Linked DNA regions of Homo sapiens. The protein of the gene in region 1 interacts with the protein of each later gene in a biochemical or structural test. Each region holds a gene or a part of one and is shown in the gene's direction. Other genes may lie near its edges.

Region 1 (4,034 bases):
CTGTATGGCATTTTGTCTGCCTTTTTTTTTTTGTAAACCTTAGTGTGTATCCTTTTCATTTTCTGTATTTATTGTTGACTTTATTTTGTTAGCCTTCTCCCTTTGTGGCAGTAGCTGTTTTGTTTTTCATGTAGTATAGGTATCTGATACACTTCTGTCTATTACAGTTTGTCTTTGCTCCTCCCACCATTATTCCTACCTTCTTGTACTGTACAGTGGCAGAAAGCTGTTTGGGCCCAGTACTCAAGTATCTTGACTAATGAGAATCATAACACCTGACTTAGAAATGGTATCCAAAAACGTCAGGTGTTTGCTGCATGTTTTTGTATTTCAGGGGATTTTTATTTTGTGTGTGTGTATGTGTTACCTATATGCTTGCATAGCTTGAAATGCCCTTTTGCAGTCTTGAGGCCTTTCTTACATATCTGTCTGCACACTTCATATGCCTGCATAGCTTGAAATGTCCTTCTGTAGCCTTGAGGTGTTCTTAACTTTTTTCTGCTTGCTGCTTTACTTGTGGGATGGCTTTAATGATTGAGCAATTAAGGTTTATCTTTTTTAAATAGTATTTGGGTTTTTTGTTTTTGTGTTTTTTTGAGACAGAGTTTTTCTCTTGTTGTCCAGGCTAGAGTGCAATGGCGTGATCTTGGCTCACCGCAACTTAAGCCTCCTGGGTTCAAGCAGTTCTCCTGCCTCAGCCTCCCAAGTAGCTGGGATTACAGGCATGCACCACTATGCCTGGCTAATTTTGTATTTTTAGTAGAAACGGGGTTTCTCCATGTTGGTCAGGCTGGTCTCAAACTCCTGACCTCAGATGATCTGCCCACCTCGGCCTCCCAAAGTGCTGGGATTACAGGCATGAGCCACTGCCCCCGGCAATAGCATTTGCTTTAAGATGAAATGTTAAGATGGATTCCTTCTCAGCCCATAGGATCTTCTGATTAACCATTTCAGGGTTTTTTTTCCCCCATTTTTAATCCTCTCATAAAAATTTTCCCCATTTTTAGTCCTCTCATAGGAAATCTTGAGCCATTGGAAAGAGCTGGTTCACGTTGGTTTCCTGCTTCTCTTAAATAGTGTCATACCAAAGAAAATGCCTGTTTAAAGTGAATTTGGTTACCAGTATAGACTTTCTCTTGAGAAACCAGGAAGGAAGGATTTTTTTCACCTTAGGGAATTAAAATAAATTTGTAATGTTGGTCTCTTGAAGTGATAGCTTTATAGTTTTGTTCTAAGTGGTAGGAAATATTATCTACAGAGATTATGGAAAAATAATCTTGTCCTTTAATTGAACCTCCTAGTGGTCTCTATAGTTGACCCTGCAGTTGGTATCAGGATTTTGAACCATGTTTTCATTCTGCATTTATCTTTTCTCTGTATCATTGATGCTTTTGACATTAATATTTGAATTGAGAAGGGGGCTGGGGCTTTTACCATCTGGGGGTGGATACAAGGTCTGTCATAGGTTCACCTAAGACCTGTCACTACTACTTGCTTCTCTGTATCACCCTTTAGGTACTTCCTGCATAGTTGTTTGTTGCAGTGTTGTTAAAATGAGTGAAAATTAGTAAACTTGGTCTTTTAAGACTACAGGGCCGGGCGCAGTGGCTCACGCCTGTAATGCCAGCACTTTGGGAGGCCCAGGCTGGTGAATCACTTCAGGTCAGGAGTTTGAGACCAGCCTGGTCAACATGGTGAAACCCTGTTTCTAATAAAAACACAAAAAAAATTAGCCCGGCATGGTGGCATCCGCCTATAATCCCAGCTACTCTGGAGGCTGAGGCATGAGAACTGCTTGAACCTGGGGAGGCGGAGGTTGCAGTGAGCTGAGATCACGCCACTGCACTCCAGCCTGGGCGACAAGAGTGTGAGACCCTGTCTCAAAAAAAAAGACTGGAAAAAAATAACTGTTTCCAGATAGTGTTTTTTTATTGTATTATTTTGGTGGTGGGTTGTAAGTTTGAACTAAATGAACAAGATAAAGCATTCTTTTATTTTATTGTCTGTTGACTTTTAATCTTTCCAGAAGGTGTCTGCCCTGGGATATAGAAGTAAAAATTTATGTCGAATGTGATAATAATATAAGCAATTGAGCCTTGAAAATGTGCTCAAAATTCAAGAGGAATATTTCTTAATTTCTCTTTTGTTTTATTTTAGCAAAAAATGGGAAAAAAACAGAATGGAAAGAGTAAAAAAGTTGAAGAGGCAGAGCCTGAAGAATTTGTCGTGGAAAAAGTACTAGATCGACGTGTAGTGAATGGGAAAGTGGAATATTTCCTGAAGTGGAAGGGATTTACAGAGTAAGAAACTTTAGTGCATCTTTACTATATGTTTAACTGCAGCTAAGTGGTTTTAGAATTTGTTTTTAACCTGGCTCTTTTACCTGCTTTCCTGTAGGTGTCTTTAAATGTAAAGACACTTTGAATTTTAGGTGTCTCATTTGAGGTCTATTTCAAAAGAACCAAGACTTTATTGTACAGTTGAAGGTGAGCAGACTAGAGACTAGTTTATTACCCTGGGGAGTCAAATTTATAAAATTATGGAGTGTAGTTTACTATGTAATATATTTTAATGTGGTTAGATATTACACTAATTAGAATAATCTGCATTATTTTCCTCCACACAGAGGGTGCTAAAAACATTGAAGCTTTACAATATAGACTAGTGGGTCTCATACAGGATTACATATAATCTAGGCTTTATACTAGGTTTATTATATCCTTATACCTAAGAAGTAGAACCTGGGCATGTTTTAAGCTCTCTGGTTCCTTGTGTTCTTTGATATGGATTGCTCTCATTATTCTTGATAATGTTATTCACAAAATGTGAATAACTTGAACATGCAACAATTACATACTTTAACGCTTGGGGTTTGTTGTGCTTATCTGCTTTGATTCTTCCCCCTTACACCACAAAGCTCCATAGGCAGTGACAATTAAAAATGGATAGGTGGAGATCAATTTCCTGAGCACGCTGGAGATGGAGCATATGATAGTCGAATGATTGGGCTTCACCTATCTGTTATCTCCTACTTCCCCTGCTCTTCACATTTAATTCATAGCAGTTTGGGAATTATGAATTGAATGGGAGATTTACGTTTGCCTGTTTTATCCTTCAGTATTCTTAGTTTAAATTAAGTATGTGTCGTAAGTCCCTTCTTTATTAAGCCCATGAAACATGAAAAATTATTTTTACCCATCAAAACATTAGGAAATGAATGGGCTCCTCCCTCTTCTCCCAAAACTTAAGGCCACTAGCATGATTATAGCGTACTTCCCATGTGCAGTGTAACAGGTAATGTAAAAGACTTTTTTTTGTTTTGTTTTGAGATGGAGTCTCACCCTGTTGCCCAGGCTGGAGTGCAGTGGCGTGATCTCAGCTCACTGCAACCTCTGCCTTCCGAGTTGAGGCGATTTTCCTGCCTCAGCCTCCTGAGTAGCTGGGACTACAGGCGCCTGCCACTATGCCCGGCTAATTTTTGTATTTTAGCAGAGACCGGGTTTCACCATGTTGGTCAGGCTGATCCCAAACTCCTGACCTCAAGTGATCCACCTGCCTTGGCCTCCCAAAGTGCTGGGATTACAGGTGTGAGCCACCGTGCCAGGCCAAAGAAGACTTTAATGAAAATAATACTACAGAGCAGAGACTTTTATTGTCCTCTACCCAGTAATTTGGGTTTACTAATTTGGAGTCTCAGGGTAGCAAATTAGAATATAGGGCCTGGGTGCAGTGGCTCACACCTGTAATTCCAGCACTTTGGGGGTCCAAGGCTGGAGGATCACTTGACACCAGGAATTCAAGACCAGCCTGGCCAACAAAATGAGACCCCTTCTCTATTAAAAAAAAAAAAAAAGTGTGTGTTTTAAGTTAGCTGGGCATGGTGGTGCATGCCTGTAGTCCCAGCTACTTGGGCTGAGGTGGAGGATCGCTTGAGTCGGGAGTTGGAATCTTCAGTGAGCTATGATTCCACTACTGCACTCTCGTCTGGGCAACAAAGCAAGACCCTGTCTCTGGCGGAGGCAGGCTGGGGGGTG
Region 2 (4,034 bases), about 110 Mb from region 1:
ATGCACTGATGAACTCATACACTCATGAGGGCTCTGCCCTCAGGACCTAACATCCCTTACTGGCCCCACCCTAAACACTTGCACTGGGGACTAAGTTTCTAACACAAGAACTTTGGGGAACACATTCAAATTATAGCAGATCTCTCCTACCCATTTTCCAGATGCTGAAAGTAACACCTCCCAGAGGAACGGCACTGGGCCTGGCCTTAGGCCACCAGCCCACCTTGCCTCTCCTGATTCTTTTCCGCTTTCCCTTGCTTCATTCCCTCATGCAGCCCCGACCACCCTCCCAGCCGAGGGAGTGAGCCAGAGCCCCACTGCATCCAGAGTCAAGGCAAAGTCCTAGTGGGTCCGGGGGAGATGAGGCTGATTTGTTACTGCCCGGCCTCAGGCACATGTTTCTTCCTGGAAGACCACTGTTCTCTGGTGGGGTAGCATCTTCTGGGCAGCTGGGACCCTGCCACTGATCTGACCTCTTTCTCCTCCCGCCACAGTCAACACCAGTCACCACTCGTCCTCCTACAAGTCCAAGTCCTCCAGCAACGTGACCTCCACCAGCGGTCACTCTTCAGGGAGCTCATCTGGAGCCATCACCTACCGGCAGCAGCGGCCGGGCCCCCACTTCCAGCAGCAGCAGCCACTCAATCTCAGCCAGGTAAGCCCCACAGCTGGCGCCCCAGGCCAGGCAGGGCCCCCATCCCCTCATCCTTCCGCTTCAGAGAGGATTGCTGTGGCGGCCCCTCACCCACCTCACAGGGCTGCAGTCCTGGCCACGGGTGGCAGCACATGCCCTTGGTGACCTCTGGTGGCTTTTTCTACCACAGGTCACCCTTGGGGAAGTTGATATCACCAGTGCACAGAGTGCTGGCCCAAAGCAAAGCGACTTGTCTAATGTTACAAAGCCCTTAGTGACATGGTGCCAGAGCTTAAAAATAGGATGGCCCACATACTGCTGTTTCAACCCAGCAAAGGGTAGAGCACTGTGTCCCGGCCCTGTCGGCCTGGGACATCAGGGACAGACCTGCATCCGACTCATTGCAGGGAGGGCCCGCACACCACAGCCCCCAAGTCAAGGGTAAGATTTGTCCCAGGACCTGGAGGAAGGGGGGTGGGTTGAGGTGAAATGTGAGTGACCTGAGTTTCTGTGGGTGCAGGGCTGTCTGTGTCAAGGGCTCGGCATCAGGCCTGACTCACGTGGTGGACTCAGGGCCCTGTTTCTCTAGAAACAAAGTGAGATAAATGGGGTGTTTGTGTTCAGAGCCCCTCATCTGAAGTGCTGCCCCAGGTCATCAGTGGAGCCCGTGTCTCTGTCACGTGACTTAGGTTCACCAGGTAGAAGAGGGCTATTTTATTTGGACTGACAGAACTTCAAACAGCAACGCTTCTGAGAGCCAACTTTTTTTTTTTAAGACAGGGTCTTGTTCTGTCACCCAGGCTCAAGTGCAGTGGCACTGTCATGGCTCTCACTGCAGCCTCTGCCTCCTGGACTCAAGTAATCCTCCACCTTAGCCTCCCGAGTAGCTGAGACTACAGGCATGAGCCACCACACCCAGCTAATTTTCAAAATTTTTTGTAGAGATGTTGTGAGAGCCAATAATTTTGAGAACAAGATTTTACAGTGAGTAAGAAAGCAACTGCTGCTCAAAGAGAGTGTCCTGGCCGGGTGCGGTGGCTCACGCCTGTAGTCCCAGCTTCTCGGGAGCCCAAGGCGGGGGGATCATTCTAGGCCAGGAGTTCAAGGCTACAGTGAGCTAGGTTCATGCCACTGCACTCCAGCCTGGGGCATCCTGATACTTCACAGCTTCTGTACGTCCTTGGGAGAAATATGTTCTCCTATAACTTTGCAGCTGGCTTTATCCGTGTATCATCCCAGCCCAGTGAGTGGCAGGCCAAGTCGGGATTTTCTCAGTCCAAGTAAATTTTTTTTTTTTTTTTGAGACAGAGTTTCACTCTGTCACCCAGGCTGGAGTGCACTCGCGTGATCTCAGCTCACTGCAACCTCTACCTCCCAGGTTCAAGTGATTCTTGTGCCTCAGCCCACCGAATAGCTGGGACTACAGACAAGGCACGTGCCACCATGCCCGGCTAATTTTTTTGTATTTTAGTAGAGACGGGGTTTCACCATATTGGCCAGGCTGGTCTCGAACTCTAGACCTCAGGTGATCCGCCCACCTCTGCCTCCCAAAGTGCTGAGATTACAGGCGTGAGCCACTGCGCCAGGTCCCAAGTAAATTTTTACTTTCTCAACACACAGAGGGAAGCCCCTTCTATTACTTCTGGAGTCTTTCCCTTCTCTTCCTCCTCCCTGCCCTCCTGCCCCTCCTCCCATTCCTTCCTCCCCATGTGTCGGCCCCTGACGTCTCTCTTGGTGCCTCTCCTCCCCAGGCTCAGCAGCACATCACCACGGACCGCACTGGGAGCCACCGAAGGCAGCAGGCCTACATCACTCCCACCATGGCCCAGGCTCCGTACTCCTTCCCGCACAACAGCCCCAGCCACGGCACTGTGCACCCGCATCTGGCTGCAGCCGCTGCCGCTGCCCACCTCCCCACCCAGCCCCACCTCTACACCTACACTGCGCCGGCGGCCCTGGGCTCCACCGGCACCGTGGCCCACCTGGTGGCCTCGCAAGGCTCTGCGCGCCACACCGTGCAGCACACTGCCTACCCAGCCAGCATCGTCCACCAGGTCCCCGTGAGCATGGGCCCCCGGGTCCTGCCCTCGCCCACCATCCACCCGAGTCAGTATCCAGCCCAATTTGCCCACCAGACCTACATCAGCGCCTCGCCAGCCTCCACCGTCTACACTGGATACCCACTGAGCCCCGCCAAGGTCAACCAGTACCCTTACATATAAACACTGGAGGGGAGGGAGGGAGGGAGGGAGGGAGAGAATGGCCCGAGGGAGGAGGGAGAGAAGGAGGGAGGCGCTCCTGGGACCGTGGGCGCTGGCCTTTTATACTGAAGATGCCGCACACAAACAATGCAAACGGGGCAGGGGCGGGGGGGGGGGGGGGGGCAGAGGGCAGGGGGACGGGTCGGGACACCAGTGAAACTTGAACCGGGAAGTGGGAGGACGTAGAGCAGAGAAGAGAACATTTTTAAAAGGAAGGGATTAAAGAGGGTGGGAAATCTATGGTTTTTATTTTAAAAAAGAAAAAGGAAAAAAAAAAAGTCAATAACAAAAAACCCAGCTCAAGAACCCATTCTACGCCAAACTGGAAAGGAGAAGAGAGCAACAGGAAGATTCCAGAAACGGGGGGCCCCAGTTTTTGAAGAACTTTATGAACTTTTCAAAGATTATTTTCATATGGCAGCAAGTGATACGGAAGACTGCTGTCAGGGACACCTGATATGGAAATCAAATAGATTTTTAATTAATTGAACATAAGATTTAGGGATTTTTCCAGAACTCGAAAGGGTCAACAGCCCTCCAGAATGTCGGGCTGCAGCCTGAGGAGGCTGATGTTTGGAGCTGGTGTGGGATTGGCGAAGCCCAGTCCGGGCTCCCTAGTCAGGAAAGACGGGGGACGGCCAGGCTGCTGGAAGGCCCCCGGGGGCGCGGGGCGAGTTTTCTTTTTCTGAGCACTCTGGATAAATCCCTAAGCAACGTTGTTTCTCAAATGTCATTAATAATGTGTGTTGCAAACTTTAGGTTTTTTTCTTTTCTGAAAATGTATTTTCTCTTTGAATCCACCCCTAGTCGCGTAGCGTAGGGCTAGCGGTCGTCACAGACACCCTAGTAGAATGTAGCACTCAGCACCCTTGTCTCCTACCTTGTGTTCAACTCCAATGATACCAATAGAATATTCCTCAATGTAATTGCACAAAAAAAAGCGATATAACATAGGCATGTAACCAATGTGGCGGTGCAGGTGTGCGGGTGAGCGAGCACGTGTGGGTGTGCACGCGCCGCCCTCCCCGCGTGGCCCTCGGCGCCGCCACCCTAGCTGGCGCAGTCTTGACACTGCATCCTTCCCTCCTAGTGCCTTACCGAGCGACAGACGCGGCGTGAGGGTTTACTTCCACTGGTAC
Region 3 (4,034 bases), on another chromosome or scaffold:
CCTCCCCACTACTCCAAGCCCAAACCCATTCATTACCCCAGTGATGCCCAATCTCAGGTAGGTGTAGGGAAGAAAGCTGCCTCTCTTACCTAATGTGTTAATTGACTGACATCCTCTAATCACCAGATAAGTACTTGTGTTTTCTTTCATCTACCAACCTAGCTGCCATCTCTGTAAACTAGTAGAGCTTGTTAAGTTTTTTCACAGACGATTAACAGTGAAAAAATGTGGTGGTTAAGAAAGGCCTCCCTCACCCCGCCTCCCCCCCCACTCTCCCACTACTCCCTTGGGGTAGGTAATTCAACTTTCTCCTTAATTCCAGAGTCTTCAAAGGTTCCTAAATGTTGCTTTTATTGTATCATCAGCTCTTAACAGGAGCCAGTGAGGAATGTACATTGATAGGCTTGGACAATACATCAAGAAGTGCTTAGTTGGTGAAATGAAGGTGATTTGGGAGACAGCTCATATCTGTCCTACTGGCTGCCCCTTGGACGTGGCCCCAGCTAGTTCATGTGGTACTGGGGAAGGTCGGCAGCCCTGGTTTTGTTGTGTGGAAATGTGATTCCGCTGGTCAGCCGATGGAGCGGCATTACTGTCTGGCAGCTGGAAGTACCCAGCTATCAATTGATATTTCAAAAAGGGTGGCAGACAGGCCTCACGTAAGTGGCAGTTCTTGCAGATTGCTTGTGGATTCCTAGAGTATTGTGGGGCTTGTGGGCCATGTTTTGAATCAGAGGAAAAGAATGTTATAATTGGGGGTTGATGGCTGCTGTAGGCTTGAGAGAAGTGAGCTTGGATGAAGGCAACCACCCTGGCTTAGGTGGGTGGTTGGCAGAGTTACTTGGTATGCATTTGTACTTTAGCTGTAAGAGTTGAAAGCTAAATAACCCCCAAATTTATTCATTACAGACTTGGAATTATTTTTCTTCCTATTGTTGGGTTATAGTCATGTTAATTGTACATCCTTGATTTTCCCAGTCTGGTTTATAGTTTGCTGTTTTTAATAAAGGCAATTTGTTAAAAATACAATTAAATGCATTTTTAAAGCCATTGTAAATTGATACGCAAATTTACAAATGAGAAAATGTGTTCTTTGTGAGATTGTGCCTCATTTTTTGATTAGCGAGAACTGTGATCACGGTAGGTGGGTAACATTTTACATAGTGTGAACTTATGGCGCCTATATACATTGTTATAATTAATCTTTAGTGTCACATAGATAACGCAGTGGCTAAATCATCCTCTCAAATGATTCCAAATGAGATTGAATGTAGCCTTTCTGGCCCTAAAATCCTGACCAGTCAATTCTGGAAAGTTGTATTTTAGTGATCAGCCTGTGGAAAAAGACGAATACATAAATGTGTATGTATTGACTCAAATTTTTTTCTTTAAAACTATTCAGGTTAATTATAGAAAATGCCAAGTAGGAAATTTGCCGATGGTGAAGTGGTAAGAGGTCGATGGCCTGGGAGTTCACTTTATTATGAAGTAGAAATTCTGAGCCACGACAGCACCTCCCAGCTTTACACTGTGAAGTATAAAGATGGAACAGAGCTTGAATTGAAAGAGAATGATATTAAGGTAAGAGCTCCTTTGGTTTATCAGAGTGTGTTTACAGTAAGTGGGAAATAACTCTAAGTATGGTTTCTAAGCTCAGGATAGTCAGTTCAGCTCGGTTTGAAGGCAGAGGATTGAGCTCTTGCTTTGGGTCACATACTGTTTTTGGCTCTGGGAATGTATGAATGAGGCATAGTCCTTGTTCCCAAGAAGCTCACACTTACTGGGAAAGACAGCCATTTGCATCTGTTGGTCCCCTGGGTTTACTACGTTCTGTGTCTGGAGTTTGCTGTGGGTGGTGTTGAGTGTATCAAGGGTAGAGAAGAGCCCTGGGCTTCAGGGGAGGCTTTCAGAGGCAGTGACACCTAGCCAAGTGCTGAGAACAAACAGGAAAAACAGCAGTTGATGGGGCTGTTTCTGCAGAGAGGGCAGTATGCCAAAGTCAGGGGTCTGGGGGACACAGTCAGCCAAGTGCTGGAAGGGGGTGGTAGGGGAGGGCTAAGCAGGAGCCAGGCTGGGGGGGCTTTTATATTCCATGCCCAAGGGTTTGGGCTTCATCCTGAACACCAAGGATTTAATCAGGAGAGTGACATTAATTAGATTCGAGTCTAGCCCAGGGCTTTTCAACCTGTCTGGTGAGGGCCTGGGTTTTAAGATATCTGATCCGTAGTATACAAACATTTATATAAAATGCCATAAAAATGAGTTACTAGAAAAATAAAGACATACACAATAGACGACTCACAGTTTTACTATCAGATTCGATAGATATGAGATTACTTTGTCAAAATGCTATAAACATTTCCATACACCTATTTCTCAATTTTGGTACTTGCACAGATTAGTAACGAGCATTTCTAGGACCCATGGCTGAGGATGACACTTCGAGTGCTCTAGACCAGGAATAAAGCACAGAAAGTAAATATTTTAGACTTTATGGGAGCGGCTCCAGGCAGTATGGAAGGGAGCAGACATGGCAGTGTTCCAGTACAACTTTATGGACAGTGAAATTTGAATTTTGGATAATTTTCACACTTCAGGAAATACTGTTCTTTTGATTTTGTTTGTAATCATTTAAGAATGTAAAAGCCATTCTTAGTAGGAAGGCCACACAAAAATTGGGGTGAGGGACTTGGCCTGGGGCGTAATTTGTCTACATCCCTAGAAGCAACATAAGGAGATTCGGAGTAGGTGGGGACACAGTGAAACAGTTCCCAGTCATCCAAGCTCATGTTTTATTTTCAAGATCTGCTTATGTGTTTTGTTCAGAGTGAAACTGTGGTACTGTTTTTTTTTTTTTGGTCTGTGTGCTTATTTATTTTGTCCTGTCGTCTCAGTTTTAATCCATGTTAATTATTACCCTTCTTGCATATGGTGTTGGAAATAAGTACAGCTAATTGGTTTAGATACATTCGTTTCATGGAAATACCTTCAAAGAACAGGAATGGAAAGGCTGCATTTGTCTCATGAAAGATGGATCATTATGAAAGCATTTTCCATTGGCTTCATCTGATCCATTCTCAGATCCTAACATTTCCCGTGCTGATTTTAGAGTTAATGGTAGCAGTTCCTGCCTTTGTTATCCTCTTCTAGTGTGGGTCTGTCTGTATGTGTTATGATTTGTGGTAAAGCTCTTTGCCTTCTTCCCCCTTTCTAGCCTTTAACTTCCTTTAGGCAAAGGAAAGGTGGCTCAACTTCCAGTTCCCCTTCCAGACGCCGAGGGAGTCGATCAAGGTCACGCTCCCGATCCCCTGGTCGACCACCTAAAAGTGCCCGCCGATCTGCTTCTGCTTCCCACCAGGCCGACATTAAGGAAGCAAGGAGGGAAGTGGAAGTTAAATTGACTCCGCTGATTCTGGTACTTGTGTTTATCCTTATACAGCCTTTTGTCTTCCGCTTTATGTATATATTTACTCAAGTTACTTGCAGTTAATAATATTAAAATGTCACTGAAACATCAAATCTAAGTTGATGACTTTGGGAGTTTTCATATAAAACAAATGTTTGGAATAGAAAGTTTTAAATATCAATGGAAAAGAATGTCCTTCAGTTACCAGAAATGCTATTTAATATTTTAGTTTTTAAAAAAGCAGCGTTCAAATTTGAAATAGATGTAGCTTGTAGATTGAACTGCGTAAGGTTTTTACAGTGTATAAAAGTTCATATCATGTATGAAATGGTAAGACAAACCTGTATTACGGAAACATTCTTACTCTTAGCATCATTATACTTTATCACTTTACCTATTCAAAGATGATTTTAGTGGAATTACTTTCAAGATGTAAGCTTTGAAATATCAGGGTGCATGGAGCCTGTAGATCTTGTACAAATAGTATTTTAGATAGTAGACCAAAGACAAAGTATGTTAAGTAAAAAGAATAAAAGTAATCTTCTATTCACTTAATGTTAACCTCTTTTCTGGATAGAAGGCACACAGACTTTGAGACAGAGTCTTGCTCTGTCACCCAGGCTGGAGC
Region 4 (4,034 bases), on another chromosome or scaffold:
ATGCATATAAATAGGATATTGATTTTTAAATGCAGGTACTGTGGAATATATTAAATGTAGGTATCTGTGGAATAAGTAGCTTTAGAAAATTTGGCAAAAGCTATTCTCAGGCTATAACAATACTGAAATTTTAAAAAAATGATCAGTCATGCTAATTCATAGATTAACTGTATTTTTATGATTTTATTGTGACTCTTGTTACTTTTAATAATGTTAAGCATTAAAAAAATTCCCAAGAATGCATTGAATTTTCAAAATAATTCATGTAGGTAAATTGCTTTGCCATCTTACATGTGTGACATATCTCTTAACATGCATATACCAATTTCCTTTGAGTTCTCTTTTGTACATATTTCTCCTTTGACAGAAAAGAAAAACTTTTTCAGAAATTAGCAATATTAATTTATTAAAATAATTATATATATACTTTTGCCTCTCCTGAGAAATGCAGAAGCTGTGACATAATTTTAAAATGCTGGATTTCCTTTTGTTAGAATTAACATATTTGGGTCACTTATGCAGGTGAAATGCACAGTTATTTTTATATGAGCACTATTGAAAAAATACTATTCTAGATACATTAAAACTAACAAATGTCTAAAACACTAATTATTAAATTCTGACTATACTTTTAAAATATTAGTCTTTATGATTGATATTTATGATATTTAATTTGGTATTTGTAAAGCAAAAATGTCCTTTAATCCTGGTGAGGAAATACATTACAGAGTTTTCTCAACACTGCTACTTGTCAACCCTTTCAGTATTTTAAAACCTGCCTTTAGTTGTCTTTATTTGAATCAGATTGTGGGTTGCCAGTTTTGAGCCAAAGACATCGATCGTCTGAGTGTATGCTCTATGTAATTCAGTTTTTTTTTTTGGTAATGACCAAGTTGAAGTTTTACATGGTTTTAAGTTGGGCATAACTCCATTTATTATTTATTTATTTTTTATTAATACTATTCTTTAAAATTGATGCACATGAAAAAATTTCTTCCTAGGGTTCTGCGTATACCTCAGAAAGCTCTAAGATTGAAAGCTGAAATGTCATGACCTGAAAACTACTGATTCTTTCCCCTTTAAGAAAAGAATTTGGAAACTAGTGTTTATTCCATAACGTTACCTTCAAGTTATCCTGAAAGACACACATGACATACGCTTTTATTTAACTCTACTAATCTTTTTACTATTTTCTCTTTCCCTTTTTTTATGTATCTCTTCCTTTCACTATCAATGTCCATTTCATCTCCCCCAAAGCAAATTTTTACATACTGTGGCTAATATAGGTATTTGTTGTTAATGTGGTTGATCTTGTAATGTGTTACTTTCCCTGATGAAACCCAGAGCAGTTTCAGAGGCCTCAAATTCTGAGATCTTCCTAAGTTCAAAATAGATTGCTGGTAGAAAAGCATTGACATTAACCATGAAAATATATATTTGTGTATTGTTCCCACTTCTATAGACATATATTACTTTTCAAAATGTCAGCTCAAGGACCAGAAATTTTTTCTGAGGAGAAAGAGAAAGCATTGCCTTTACAAAAGTTTCCCTGATCATTCCATTTCATAGCATTTGTACAGTTTTTTACTTGTATCTCTTGATAAAATAATTTGTTCCTATATTCGTCAGCCATACTCAACCATCAGCTCTGTGAAAGCAAAGAGATTTTGTATTATCTTCATCTGTATGTCTATAACATCATCACAGTGCTGCTCCTGTTTTAGGTATTCAATATATATTTGTTGTTTAGTTAGAATTGAGCCATGTGGTATTTCTTAAAGGTATGTTTTTAAATCTAAGATTAGTGAATGGCAAGTACATTTCTCTTAATTTCAAAATATAATTTTCTTAGGTAGAGCTGTGTCCTTGAGGGCTTCTTGCTTTGGGGGTAGGAATATTTTATTTACATATATCCCTAACAATACATACATAACTTTATAAAGATAAAGAAAAATTTAAAGTTCCTTTTTAAGCTGTTAATGAGGATCGTGAAGTACAGGAAGGGTTTTTTGTTCTGATTCCTTAGGCAGTATAATTGGAGTAAGATACTGGAGTATTGCAAGAAGTGAAATATCTAAATACTTTCTTGTTTTAATCTTTGGATTTATTGCAGTTTTAATTTTTTTTTTGCCAATTTAAGTATTATATATAATCAGATAAGTTAAATAATGAGAAATACGTTACAGCACATAAAAAATGCTATTCAGGGTCAGCAAAGCCTGAGTCCTGTCCTCTCGCTCTCCTCCCTGGACAGCATGAGCTTCACCACTTGCTCCACCTTCTCCACCAACTACTGGTTCCTGGGCTCTGTCCAGCCACCCAGCTATGGTGCCTGACTGGTCAGCAGTGCAGCCAGCGTCTATGCAGGCGCCAGGGGCTCTGGTTCGCGGATCTCCGTGTCCTGTTCCACCAGCTTCCGCGGCGGCTTGGGGTCCAGGGGCCTGGCCAAGTGGATGGCCCAGGGTCTGGCAGGAATGGGAGGCATCCAGAACAAGGAGACCCTCCAAAGCCTGAACAACCACCTGGCCTCCTACCTGGACAGAGTGAGGAGCCTAGAGACCAAGAACCAGAGACTGGAGAGCAACACCCGGGAGCACCTGGAGAAGAAGGGACCCCAGGTCAGAGACTGGGGCCATTACTTCAAGACCATCGAGGATCTGAGGGCTCAGATCTTTGCAAATACTGTGGACAATGCCTGCATTGTTCTGCAGATTGACAATGCCTACCTTGCTGCTGATGGCTTTAGAGTCAAGTGTGAGACAGAGCTGGCCATGTGCCAGTCTGTAGAGAACGACATCCGTGGGCTCTGCAAGGTCATTGATGACACCAGTGTCACTTGGCTGTAGCTAGAGACAGACATCGAGGCTCTCAGGGAGGAGCTGCTCTTAATGAAGGAGAACCACGAAGAGGAAGTAAAAGGCCTACAAGCCCAGCTCACCAGCTCTGGGTTGACCGTGAAGGTAGATGCTCCCAAATCTCAGGACCTCGCCAAGATCATGGCAGACATACAGGCCCAATACGACGAGCTAGCTCAGAAGAACCAAGAGGAGCTAGACAAGTACTGGTCTCAGCAGATTGAGGAGAGCACCACAGTGGTCACCACTCAGTCCGCGCAGGTCGGAGCTGCTGAGATGACACTCACGGAGCTGAGACATACGGTCCAGTCCTTGGAGATCCATCTGGACTTGATAAGAAATCTGAAGGCCAGCTTCTGGAGAACAGCCTGAGGGAGGTGGAGACCTGCTATGCCCTGCAGGTAGAGCAGCTCAACAGAATCCTGCTGCACCTGGAGTCAGAGCTGGCACAGACCCAGGCAGAGGGGCAGCACCAGGCCCAGGAGTACGAGACCATGCTGAACATCAAGGTCAAGCTGGAGGCTGAGAGCGCCACCTGCCACCGCCTGCTTGAAGATGGCAAGAACTTCAGTCTTGATGATGCCCTGGACAGCAGCAACTCCATGCAAACTATCCAAAAGACCACCACCCGCTGGATAGTGGATGGCAGAGTGGTGTCTGAGACCAGTGACACCAAAGTTCTGAGACATTAAGTCAGCAGAAGCAGGGTACCCTTTGGGGAGCAGGAGGCCCATAAAATGTTCAGAGGTCATTGGGGGAAAATAGGCTATTCAGTTAAAATAGTTATCTGATGACTGAAATTTTTTTAATATGTCAGGTGTATTGAGGTATAATTTATACAGTAAAACTCAGTCTTTTGGGTGTGCAGTTTGATGAGTTTTGACAAACATACACAGTCTTAAAACCACCACCACAATCAGAATATTTCCATTACCCCCAAAAGTTCCCATGTATCCCTTTGTAATCAGTTTCCTGCTCCTACTGCAGCCCGAGGCAACTAGATCTGGTTTCTGTCTCTATAGTTTTTCCTTTTCTAGAACATAAAAATGGAATCATATATAGCCTTTTATGTCTTTTTTTTAAATTTAGCAGAAAGCTTCTGAGATTCATTCATGTTCTATGTATCAGTAGTTTGTCAATGACTGAAGTTTAAAATTGTTAACTTTGGTGAAGCTCTTA
Region 5 (4,034 bases), on another chromosome or scaffold:
CCCGGATGCGAGGGCATGGGGAACCCCGGCGCCCGCCCTGCGATCCCCTGGCTGACACCATTGACAGCTCAGGGCCCTCCCTGACCCTGCCCAATGGGGGCTGCCTTTCAGCCGTGGGGCTGCCACTGGGGCCAGGCCGGGAGGCCCTGGAAAAGGCCCTGGTCATCCAGGAGTCAGAGAGGTGAGTGGGGAGTTGCTCAGGCACAGCAACTGGGGCTGAGGCCAGAGGAGTGGTGTCGAGGCTGATGCTGGAATCTGAGGAGCTCCCCTTCTCTCCCCGCTCCCGTGCTCCCTTGGCAGGCGGAAGAAGCTCCGTTTCCACCCTCGGCAGTTGTACCTGTCCGTGAAGCAGGGCGAGCTGCAGAAGGTGATCCTGATGCTGTGTGAGTGCCACCCATTCCTTCAGCAGACCTTGACCAAGCTTCATGTATATACCAGGCACTGGGTACAGGGCCAGGAGTACAGTCGTGAAGGACACAGTCCTTGCCCTGAAGGACTTAGTGTGGTGGGGAAAAGACACATGTAACCCATAACGATGGGGATGTGGTGACTCATAGGTGCTGGGTCCTGTTCTGAGTGCTTATACCTGTTAGCCTTGGCTTGCACAGAGAGGTTAGGGACCTTGCACAGTGCACAGTGGTACTGAGAAGCAAGGCAGGGTTTGAATTCAGGCAGAGCTGATGCCTTTGACTCCTTATTCTGATAAATGCTGTGGTGGAGGCAAGCTCGGAGAATGCCAGGAGGGGCCCTGATCCAGCTTGGGGCCCTGAGAAGCCTTCCTGAAAGAAGTGCCACCTGCCCCCTAGCTTGCTTACCACTTGTCCCTCCCTCTCCCGGTGTGGCGGGCTCTCCCCGCAGTGGACAACCTGGACCCCAACTTCCAGAGCGACCAGCAGAGCAAGCGCACGCCCCTGCATGCAGCCGCCCAGAAGGGCTCCGTGGAGATCTGCCATGTGCTGCTGCAGGTCAGCACGGGCCCGGCCCCATGCCTCATTCACCAGGCCCTTAGGCCCCTCCCCTGCCCCATGCCTCCCTGGTGCCAGCCCTCCTGCCCCCTCACAGGCTGGAGCCAACATAAATGCAGTGGACAAACAGCAGCGGACGCCACTGATGGAGGCCGTGGTGAACAACCACCTGGAGGTAGCCCGTTACATGGTGCAGCGTGGTGGCTGTGTCTATAGCAAGGTGTGCGCGCAGGCAGCAGGGCGTGGCCCCCGGAGTCAGGGACCAGGTTTGGGGTGCCAGCCCAAAGGCTCATTTGCCCGTGTCTCCCTCAGGAGGAGGACGGTTCCACCTGCCTCCACCACGCAGCCAAAATCGGGAACTTGGAGATGGTCAGCCTGCTGCTGAGCACAGGACAGGTGGACGTCAACGCCCAGGTCAGCGGCCCACCCAGCCCAGCCCCTCTGGGTCCCTGGTGCCTGGGTTCCTTGGCTTGGCCTCAGGCTTTGGGCCGCCTTTCCTACATCTGACCTCACACTGCTCGTGTCTGTCCTCATTGCTTTCTTCTTCCTCATTTGTATTTCTCTTCATTCTTTTCTTTCTCGTTTCTTTCTCTTTATCAAGTTTCAGAATAATCAGTTCCTGTCTTAATCTCTGAAAGTGTCCAGTGAGGCTTTTTATTAACTCTTGGGTTGTCATACATTGGATGTGTTTTAGTCATTTATTGGCATTCTTCTCAGTCTTTGAATTATTCCATCATTGTCCAGAAGAAGCCCCTTTAAGAGGCCTCTGTGGCTGTGACATGACCCAGTGGCCCAGTGGCCTTTGAGAGCCTCCTGACCTTTCAGCACATTTCCTGCCCCCAACTCAGAATCCACCATTTCTCTAAGAAACTCTGCTTCCTTTATGGGAAACTTTTTTTTTTTTTTTTGAGACGGAGTCTCACTCTGTTGCCCAGGCTGGAGTGCAATGGCGTGATCACAGCTTACTGCAAGCTCCGCCTCCCAGGTTCACGCCATTCTCCTGCCTCAGCCTCCCGAGTAGCTGGGATTACAGGCGCCCACCACCATGCCCGGCTAATTTTTGTATTTTTAGTAGAGACGGGGTTTCACCATATTGGCCAGGCTGATCTTGAACTCCTGACCTCGTGAGCCACAGCGCCCGGCCAGAAGCATTTTTTAGAGAATACAATCTATGTTCCTAGGAGTGTTTATTGTTATTGGGTTGTCGCTGCTTCTAGGACTTTTGAGTGGGCAGACTTAGGAAATTTTTGTTCGTTTTTTCTTTTAAGAGACAGGGTCTTGCTATGTCACCCAGGCTGAAGTACAGTAGCAGTTCACAGACAGTCATAGCTCTCTGCAGCCTCGAAATCCTGGGCTCAAGCAACCCTCCCATCTCAGTCACATGAGTAGCTGGGACTACAGGCATGCACCTCCATGACCAGCTCCTGGCTGTATTTTTTGGAAAGAGAACAATTACTTTATTTTCTCTCTGGCATCAGATGGTAGACGCTACTAGTCCCATTTTTGTTTGTTTGTTTTTTGAGACGGAGTCTTGCTCTGTCGCCCAGGCTGGAGTGCAGTGGCACGATCTTGGCTCACTGCAAGCTCCGCCTCCCGGGTTCACGCCATTCTGCCTCAGCCTCCCTAGTAGCTGGGACTACAGGCGCCTGCCACCACGCCCAGCTAATTTTTTCTATTTTTTAGTAGAGACAGGGTTTCACCGTGTTGGCCACAATGGCCTCCATCTCCTGACCTCGTGATCCGCCCGCCTCGGCCTCCCAAAGTGCTGGGATTACAGGCATGAGCCACCGCGCCCGACCCTACTAGTCCCATTTTTTAGATGAAGAAACTGCGACCCAGAGACGTTAAGTGACTTACCCAGGGTCCCACAGCTTGTGAATGGTGGAGCTGGGATTCACACACACAGCCAATCTTGACCATTTGCTGCTTTGGTGAGCAGGGCCAGCTGCCCCCACCCTCACTCCCTTCCCACCCACAGGACAGTGGGGGGTGGACGCCCATCATCTGGGCTGCAGAGCACAAGCACATCGAGGTGATCCGCATGCTACTGACGCGGGGCGCCGACGTCACCCTCACTGACAACGTGAGTGAGCGTTTGGTTGAGGTAGGGCAGCCCCAGGCCCCTGAGCAAGGTGGAGGCTGGATTCAAGGGCCCAGCTGCCTGCACCTCATCTGTTCCCCTCCTACCTCCACAGGAGGAGAACATCTGCCTGCACTGGGCCTCCTTCACGGGCAGCGCCGCCATCGCCGAAGTCCTTCTGAATGCGCGCTGTGACCTCCATGCTGTCAACTACCATGGGGACACCCCCCTGCACATCGCAGCTCGGGAGAGCTACCATGACTGCGTGCTGTGAGCCCCTGCCCCGCCCTTGATGCCCCTGCCCCCACTTCTTGCAGCCTCAGACCCTGCATTGGGCATCCTGTCCCCTCTTCAGGTTATTCCTGTCACGTGGGGCCAACCCTGAGCTGCGGAACAAAGAGGGGGACACAGCATGGGACCTGACTCCCGAGCGCTCCGACGTGTGGTTTGCGCTTCAACTCAACCGCAAGCTCCGACTTGGGGTGGGAAATCGGGCCATCCGCACAGAGAAGATCATCTGCCGGTGAGCCCTGGGCCCCTCTCTGCACCCAAGACCACCTCCTCCCCACCCATACCCTCCCCAGGCTCCATTGCATCCTCACAACATTCCCCAACCCCTCCCCATGCACCACTGAATCCCCAGAACCACCCACAGGCCCCCTCCCCACTAGGGTTGCCAGATACAGCAAATAAAAATAGAAGACACCCAGTTAAACTGGAATTTCAGATGCACAGATGCATACTTTTTTAGTGTGAGAATGTCCTGTGTAATTTTTGGGACATACTAAAAAGCTATTTCTTGTTTATCTAAAATTCTATGTTAACTCGCTGTCCTGCATCTTACCTGGCAACCTTACTCCCCTGCCCCCAGCCCCAGGAACCTCCCCAACTCTCTTCCTTATACCTGGAGTAGCTCCTCACCCCCTTTTCCAGCTTCCCAGCCCCTTCTTCCCGTCTTCTGCAGGGACGTGGCTCGGGGCTATGAGAAC
Region 6 (3,667 bases), on another chromosome or scaffold:
AGTGACATTTTTTAGTTTGTGAAAATGTGTGCATCGATGAAGAAATTTTATTATGAATTAGCTTAAAAATGCATTAGGAACTTCTGTATGAAAAGATCACATTATTTAAGTGTAAAAAAACTGCATAATAAAAGCAGTTCAAGTCAAGAAAAACAATGTTAATGGAATATATTTTAAAACTTATTTCCAACCTCAAAATTAATTTTCTGCAACTAAGGACCTGCATAATACCTAGTAAGCCTTTGGGGTTTTGCAGAGGAGGTCGATTCTAAAAATGGGTGTTTAAATTACTTAAGAGTTCTATTTTTTTTCTTCCCACACAGGCTGAGGACAATGTGTGTGTCAAGAAAATAAGAACCAGAAGTCATAGGGACAGTGAAGATATTTGACAGAAAAATCGAACTGGGAAAAATATAATAAAGTTAGTTTTGTGATAAGTTCTAGTGCAGTTTTTGTCATAAATTACAAGTGAATTCTGTAAGTAAGGCTGTCAGTCTGCTTAAGGGAAGAAAACTTTGGATTTGCTGGGTCTGAATCGGCTTCATAAACTCCACTGGGAGCACTGCTGGGCTCCTGGACTGAGAATAGTTGAACACCGGGGGCTTTGTGAAGGAGTCTGGGCCAAGGTTTGCCCTCAGCTTTGCAGAATGAAGCCTTGAGGTCTGTCACCACCCACAGCCACCCTACAGCAGCCTTAACTGTGACACTTGCCACACTGTGTCGTCGTTTGTTTGCCTATGTCCTCCAGGGCACGGTGGCAGGAACAACTATCCTCGTCTGTCCCAACACTGAGCAGGCACTCGGTAAACACGAATGAATGGATGAGCGCACGGATGAATGGAGCTTACAAGATCTGTCTTTCCAATGGCCGGGGGCATTTGGTCCCCAAATTAAGGCTATTGGACATCTGCACAGGACAGTCCTATTTTTGATGTCCTTTCCTTTCTGAAAATAAAGTTTTGTGCTTTGGAGAATGACTCGTGAGCACATCTTTAGGGACCAAGAGTGACTTTCTGTAAGGAGTGACTCGTGGCTTGCCTTGGTCTCTTGGGAATACTTTTCTAACTAGGGTTGCTCTCACCTGAGACATTCTCCACCCGCGGAATCTCAGGGTCCCAGGCTGTGGGCCATCACGACCTCAAACTGGCTCCTAATCTCCAGCTTTCCTGTCATTGAAAGCTTCGGAAGTTTACTGGCTCTGCTCCCGCCTGTTTTCTTTCTGACTCTATCTGGCAGCCCGATGCCACCCAGTACAGGAAGTGACACCAGTACTCTGTAAAGCATCATCATCCTTGGAGAGACTGAGCACTCAGCACCTTCAGCCACGATTTCAGGATCGCTTCCTTGTGAGCCGCTGCCTCCGAAATCTCCTTTGAAGCCCAGACATCTTTCTCCAGCTTCAGACTTGTAGATATAACTCGTTCATCTTCATTTACTTTCCACTTTGCCCCCTGTCCTCTCTGTGTTCCCCAAATCAGAGAATAGCCCGCCATCCCCCAGGTCACCTGTCTGGATTCCTCCCCATTCACCCACCTTGCCAGGTGCAGGTGAGGATGGTGCACCAGACAGGGTAGCTGTCCCCCAAAATGTGCCCTGTGCGGGCAGTGCCCTGTCTCCACGTTTGTTTCCCCAGTGTCTGGCGGGGAGCCAGGTGACATCATAAATACTTGCTGAATGAATGCAGAAATCAGCGGTACTGACTTGTACTATATTGGCTGCCATGATAGGGTTCTCACAGCGTCATCCATGATCGTAAGGGAGAATGACATTCTGCTTGAGGGAGGGAATAGAAAGGGGCAGGGAGGGGACATCTGAGGGCTTCACAGGGCTGCAAAGGGTACAGGGATTGCACCAGGGCAGAACAGGGGAGGGTGTTCAAGGAAGAGTGGCTCTTAGCAGAGGCACTTTGGAAGGTGTGAGGCATAAATGCTTCCTTCTACGTAGGCCAACCTCAAAACTTTCAGTAGGAATGTTGCTATGATCAAGTTGTTCTAACACTTTAGACTTAGTAGTAATTATGAACCTCACATAGAAAAATTTCATCCAGCCATATGCCTGTGGAGTGGAATATTCTGTTTAGTAGAAAAATCCTTTAGAGTTCAGCTCTAACCAGAAATCTTGCTGAAGTATGTCAGCACCTTTTCTCACCCTGGTAAGTACAGTATTTCAAGAGCACGCTAAGGGTGGTTTTCATTTTACAGGGCTGTTGATGATGGGTTAAAAATGTTCATTTAAGGGCTACCCCCGTGTTTAATAGATGAACACCACTTCTACACAACCCTCCTTGGTACTGGGGGAGGGAGAGATCTGACAAATACTGCCCATTCCCCTAGGCTGACTGGATTTGAGAACAAATACCCACCCATTTCCACCATGGTATGGTAACTTCTCTGAGCTTCAGTTTCCAAGTGAATTTCCATGTAATAGGACATTCCCATTAAATACAAGCTGTTTTTACTTTTTCGCCTCCCAGGGCCTGTGGGATCTGGTCCCCCAGCCTCTCTTGGGCTTTCTTACACTAACTCTGTACCTACCATCTCCTGCCTCCCTTAGGCAGGCACCTCCAACCACCACACACTCCCTGCTGTTTTCCCTGCCTGGAACTTTCCCTCCTGCCCCACCAAGATCATTTCATCCAGTCCTGAGCTCAGCTTAAGGGAGGCTTCTTGCCTGTGGGTTCCCTCACCCCCATGCCTGTCCTCCAGGCTGGGGCAGGTTCTTAGTTTGCCTGGAATTGTTCTGTACCTCTTTGTAGCACGTAGTGTTGTGGAAACTAAGCCACTAATTGAGTTTCTGGCTCCCCTCCTGGGGTTGTAAGTTTTGTTCATTCATGAGGGCCGACTGCATTTCCTGGTTACTCTATCCCAGTGACCAGCCACAGGAGATGTCCAATAAAGTATGTGATGAAATGGTCTTAAAACCCATGGTATTTTTATTATAGGGAGAGTGGGGAAAGAAACTAAGTGTGGGTGGGGCAGACAGGCCAGTGTAAGAGAGACTGGTTCATTACGTTCCATTTTCATTTCTACAAGGACTTGGCTGGATGGTCATTTTCTCTCTTGGCCAATAAGTCATCGCAGCTGCTTTTAGTCCTGCAGGAATGGCCTGCTGTATCTCGAGAACTACCTGCAACCGCAGCTGTGCCTGCTTTGTTGCAACAGAGGTGCTGAGTTGAGGGATGGGGATTTGACCCAGGGCTGCCCCAAGTCAGCAGATGAAAATACATGCCCTGACTTTCCTCTGGCAACCCTGATTTGACATGGATCCCGGGAGTGAATTTGCTGGCAAGTTCCAGGGGCAGTAGCCTGCGGTAGGTCAGTTAGTCCTGAAGAAGAGGCCTTTCTGTCGGAGAGAAAAGTTTGCAGGTGGGTGCATCTACCATCTTGAGAGGCTGAGGAGGGAGGGAGAGCCGTGCTCGGTGGTCAGTCTGGTGAAGGAAGTGGGTTCAGTCTGCAGCCCACATCCTGGGCTGTCATCAAGAATTAACATGGCAAACGGCGACTCCATAAAGTAAACTGTAGCTACTTAACTAAATGATTTCGTGTGGCTGAGATCCTACTGTTTGCTGGGTTTCCTGGAAAAGTCCTCTAGATGAACTGCAGGAATCTCCTGGCACTCTGGTTACAGCTGGAGAAACTGATTTCTGTGCTGTCCAGGTGCTCCCAGA
Region 7 (4,034 bases), on another chromosome or scaffold:
CCAACACAGTGGGCCTGGGGAGCACAGCATCAAGACAAAAAGGATTATTCTGCAGATTATTCTCAAGCCGTAAACCATAATGTGCTGTGACCCATAGGTTCAGGACTTGCTGGGGACCTGTTACTCCTTTTCTTTTTTTCTGTTTCCCTTTTTTGGAACTGGAATGTTTATCCTGTGCCCGTCTCACCACTATATATGTGTGTGTGTGTGTGTGTGTGTGTGTGTGTGTCTCTGTGTGTGTGTTTTGTTTTTTTTTTTTTAAGACTGAGTCTCACCCTGTTGCCCAGGGTGGAGTGCAGTGGCATGATCTCAGCTCACTGCAGACTCCGCCTGCCGGGTTCAAATGATTCTCCTGCCTCAGCCTCCCAAGTAGCTGGGATTATAGGTGCTCACCACCACGCCTGGCTGCTTTTTGTATTTTTGGTAGAGATGAGGTTTAACCGTATTGGCCAGGCTGGTCTCAAACTCCTGACCTCAGGTAATCTGCCTGCCTCGGCCTCCCAAGGTGCTGGGATTACAGGTGTGAGCCACTGCGCCGGCCTCACCACTATTTGGAAGGCACATAACTTGTTTCATTTCACAGGTTCACAGCTGGAGAGAATTTTGTGTCAGGTAGAATTGTGCCTTGAGTTTCAACCGTAACTGATTTAGATGATATTTAAATGAGATGTTGGACTCCGGACTTTTGAGTTGATGCTGGAATGAATTAAGACTTTGAGGGTTATTGGGATAGAATGAATTTGTTTGGCATGTGAAAAGGATATGAATTTGGGGGAACCAGGGGCAGAATGCTATGGTTTCAGTGTTTATATCTCCCCAAAATTTGTGTTGAAATTGTAATCCCCAAGATGATGGTATTAGGAAGTGGAGACTTTTGGGGAGATGATCTGGTAACAAGGGCAAAGTCCTCATGAGTGGGATTAGTCCCTCCTAAAAGAGGCCCCAGAGAACTCCCTTGCCCTCTCCATCATGTAAGGACACAGAAGACACCTGTCTTTTGACCAAGAAGTGGGCCCTCACCAGGCACCCAGCCTGCTGGCACCTTGATCTTGGACGTCCAGCCTCCAGAACTGTGAGGAACAGATTTCTGTTGTATAGAAACTGCCCGTCCTACAGCGTTGTGTTGTCACAGCCTCAGTGGACTAAGACTGAGACACCTAGCTCGTCCCGGACTGAGGCATCCCTGTTCTCCTGTGCTTTCAGAGTCGGGTTTCTCCATTCAAGGACATGATTTTATGCTTCTCTGAAGAGGATTGGTCCCTTCTAGATCCTGCCCAGACTGGCTTCTATGGAGAGTTCATCATTGGGGAGGATTACGGGGTCTCAATGCCTCCAAGTAAGACTTAACTTCCCCCCACACCTCAAGACCAGGGAACTGGGCAGGGGAGTTCTCACTTGGAGTAAGAGTCAACTTCGTCCCATAGGATCAGGGAAGCGGGGCCTGCATCAGATCTCTCTGTTCACCCCCAACCTGGACAGGAGGTCATTTGCACACAGCGGCCCTACAGGCAGTGTGTCCGATTGACCATCACCTGCTGTCTCGCCACATCAGGCTTATCAGAACCAAATAGAACATGTGCTGTATGTCCATTTCTCTTCCATCGTTCTTACCGTTTTGTCCCTTTATGTCTGCTTTACACCCGAAAGCCTCAGAGAGACCCCCAAGCCCATAGCTCTCCCTGCGTGTGCTGCCCCCACTGCCCCTGCACTGCCAGCTCTGGCCTTTTCACTTCTCGCCCCTGATGGTGCCATGCCCGCTGGGCATCCCTCCGCCTTCTCTCTTCTGGACCAGCCCTGGTTGCTGCAGGATCAGATTACTAATAAACATGTACCCTGCCTTTTTCTTTGAACAGACGACCTAGCTGCCCAGCCAGATCTCTCCCAGGGAGAGGAGAATGAGCCACGCGTTCCAGAGTTGCAGGATCTCCAGGGCAAAGAAGTGCCCCAGGTCTCCTACTTGGGTGAGTAATGATTCCAGAACTGAGTGGACAGAGTAGGGGGAAGGGTTGCTGGCAGCCGGAGGTGAGCCCACTCTCTGGCTTCTCTCTGCGGCCCCTAATTGCCTTCTTCATTTCCCCAGACTCTATGTGGGTCTTGCATGTCTTGCCTTGTCCCTGACTTTTCATAGAAAGAATGGAGGATCTTAATTTTGCCAGGCATTGGAATTGTACTCCCTTGGCCAAGGACTGGGAAATAATAGGAATGTCTTTCTCCTCTGCCTGTAAGTAACATCTGGTTTGTGCTGACAATGCAGCAGCCCCTCCAGGAGTGAAGTCAGATACTCATGACAAGCCTAGTTGCAGAGGGAGTGTCTCCTAACTGGGCACCGAGCGCAGCCCTTTGAGGTGCCTCACCTGTCTAGTCTTCCCATCTGCCTGGTACAGGGGTGCTGTGAGGACACTGGGGTGTGGGGAGGTGCTGGGGCTCAGCAGCAGCAGTTTCCAGCCCTCCTTCAGGCTGTGTCGCCAGCACTTGCACCCATGATCTCCATGCCATGGTGCTTCGAAGCATCTGCTCCTTCAGGAGGAAATAGCTTTGTACAGAATCATCAGCAGCTCCACACCTTCTTCCCCTTTGGGACCTAGAGCTGGCATGAAGCAGACAAGGTTTTGACACACCATCCCCACCTGGAACAAGCGTTCAGAGACTTGGTGTGGTGCAGTAGCTCCTGTACCATCTCTACCCTGTAGGCTCTGCACAAGCTGTTTGTGCAGGATGTGCGGAGTGTGCAGGAGCCTGTGGTGATGACTATAGAAAACCCACCACAGAAAGTGGGAATAAATATGGGGCTGGGGGAAGTGCTTGTCTCTGGCCATAGAGTGGGTGGAGTAGAACCCGGATCTACGTCGATTCTGTCTAGCGTCAGAGCTCATGTTTGTGGAGTTGGCCCATTTTGCCTTCAGGTTCATTCACTCAGCAGACACTTATTGAGTGGCCACCCCCTGCCAGTCCCCAGGACGGAGCCCAGGGCCGCCCCCAGATCGTAGCCTGGCATCTATTCGGATAGCACCCTCCCAGGTAGTGCTGTAGGTGCAAAACAAATCAATTTTTCCATTTCCTCCTCTGGAAAGACTCTCCAAGTCTCCAGCCATTCCAGGTAGAAGAAAGAAGGAAACGTGAGGAGCTGCAGGTGCCAGAGTTCCAGGCCTGCCCACAGACGGTGGTGCCTCAAAACACCTACCCAGGTAAAGAAGGGTCAGGGAGGTATGGGTTTGTCCCTGTGTGTCTGTGGTGTGTCGCATGAATGTATGTATGCATGTGTGGCATAGGGGATGGTTGTGTTGAATGCATGTGTGCGTGCATACACATGTGGTATATGTGGTGTGCTGCATGTGTGAGTGTGTGCATTCATGGGTGCACCTGTGTGTTGGGGGCATGTGGGTGTGTGATGTAAATGTGCGGTGGTGATGGCATGGGACAGTTAGGAACTGAACCCCTCAGGATCCCCGCCGACCTCTGCTGTGGTGTTCTTAGCTGCTTGCCCTGATTCCGTTGTGCTGGGGTCATTCTCCAGCTCACTCCCAATCCCAGGCTCACCCTCCTTGCCTTTCCCAGGGGCCGGGGAGGGTGTGTCAAAGCAGGGTGCTGCTGTAGTGCTGTTGGTGATGCAGTGAGTGTTTTTCTTCTCTCAGCATGGATGGCCAGCATCCTGGCACAGAATCTTGGAACTGGGATTAAAGAGCAGGTTTCTGGCATACTGAAGCTGCACAGGACTCTTGGAAAGTGTATGTTCCATTCCTGCTTTCAGAGAAATAGCCACAGTGTAGACTCTGAGTCGTCTTGGTAAAAGTCACCACTTCCAGAAGCAGAGGCTACAATACTGCCATCTTTCTCTTCTCAATACAAAACCCAAGCCTCTGATTCTTACCTGAACCCACGTGTCATTGTAGTTTTCTGCAGCTATGGAGACCAACTCACACATATTATCTCTTCTACCTGTGATGCTTTTGAAGGCAAGATTTATGCCATTTTGACCCAGCTCCATGCATCTTGTACTTGGCCCCCTTTCATGCATGGACAAAGGGGCTTTTCTA

What was found.
Region 2: of the proteins of CBX3 (region 1) and HIPK2, one has a biochemical effect on the other in vitro, tested with the Homo sapiens proteins (one study listed by BioGRID).
Region 3: the proteins of CBX3 (region 1) and LBR form a complex in vitro, tested with the Homo sapiens proteins (one study listed by BioGRID and IntAct).
Region 4: the proteins of CBX3 (region 1) and NIPBL form a complex in vitro, tested with the Homo sapiens proteins (one study listed by BioGRID).
Region 5: the proteins of CBX3 (region 1) and EHMT2 are reported together in a solved structure, tested with the Homo sapiens proteins (2 studies listed by BioGRID, with this or other methods).
Region 6: the proteins of CBX3 (region 1) and MKI67 form a complex in vitro, tested with the Homo sapiens proteins (one study listed by BioGRID).
Region 7: the proteins of CBX3 (region 1) and ZNF496 form a complex in vitro, tested with the Homo sapiens proteins (one study listed by BioGRID).

The regions. Positions count from the first base shown.
Region 1 is NC_000007.14:26,204,211-26,208,244, forward strand, and holds part of CBX3 (chromobox protein homolog 3), read left to right. Parts: intron 1-2,157; coding exon 2,158-2,300; intron 2,301-4,034.
Region 2 is NC_000007.14:139,571,749-139,575,782, reverse strand, and holds part of HIPK2 (homeodomain-interacting protein kinase 2), read left to right. Parts: intron 1-494; coding exon 495-655; intron 656-2,385; coding exon 2,386-2,856; 3' UTR 2,857-4,034.
Region 3 is NC_000001.11:225,421,458-225,425,491, reverse strand, and holds part of LBR (delta(14)-sterol reductase LBR), read left to right. Parts: intron 1-1,402; 5' UTR 1,403-1,416; coding exon 1,417-1,581; intron 1,582-3,214; coding exon 3,215-3,415; intron 3,416-4,034. UniProt on the Homo sapiens protein: Catalyzes the reduction of the C14-unsaturated bond of lanosterol, as part of the metabolic pathway leading to cholesterol biosynthesis.
Region 4 is NC_000005.10:36,882,951-36,886,984, forward strand, and holds part of NIPBL (nipped-B-like protein), read left to right. Parts: intron 1-4,034. UniProt on the Homo sapiens protein: Plays an important role in the loading of the cohesin complex on to DNA. Forms a heterodimeric complex (also known as cohesin loading complex) with MAU2/SCC4 which mediates the loading of the cohesin complex onto chromatin.
Region 5 is NC_000006.12:31,883,926-31,887,959, reverse strand, and holds part of EHMT2 (histone-lysine N-methyltransferase EHMT2), read left to right. Parts: coding exon 1-181; intron 182-300; coding exon 301-383; intron 384-858; coding exon 859-965; intron 966-1,062; coding exon 1,063-1,185; intron 1,186-1,277; coding exon 1,278-1,379; intron 1,380-2,904; coding exon of another isoform or gene 2,905-2,943; coding exon 2,944-3,048; coding exon of another isoform or gene 3,049-3,069; intron 3,070-3,160; coding exon 3,161-3,315; intron 3,316-3,400; coding exon 3,401-3,568; intron 3,569-3,755; exon of another isoform or gene 3,756-4,009; coding exon 4,010-4,034. UniProt on the Homo sapiens protein: Histone methyltransferase that specifically mono- and dimethylates 'Lys-9' of histone H3 (H3K9me1 and H3K9me2, respectively) in euchromatin.
Region 6 is NC_000010.11:128,095,912-128,099,578, reverse strand, and holds the end of MKI67 (proliferation marker protein Ki-67), read left to right. Parts: intron 1-323; coding exon 324-389; 3' UTR 390-2,920; downstream 2,921-3,667. UniProt on the Homo sapiens protein: Protein that associates with the surface of mitotic chromosomes and acts both as a chromosome repellent during early mitosis and chromosome attractant during late mitosis.
Region 7 is NC_000001.11:247,307,626-247,311,659, reverse strand, and holds part of ZNF496 (zinc finger protein 496), read left to right. Parts: intron 1-1,203; coding exon 1,204-1,336; intron 1,337-1,853; coding exon 1,854-1,961; intron 1,962-3,071; coding exon 3,072-3,185; intron 3,186-3,632; coding exon of another isoform or gene 3,633-3,787; exon of another isoform or gene 3,788-4,034. UniProt on the Homo sapiens protein: DNA-binding transcription factor that can both act as an activator and a repressor.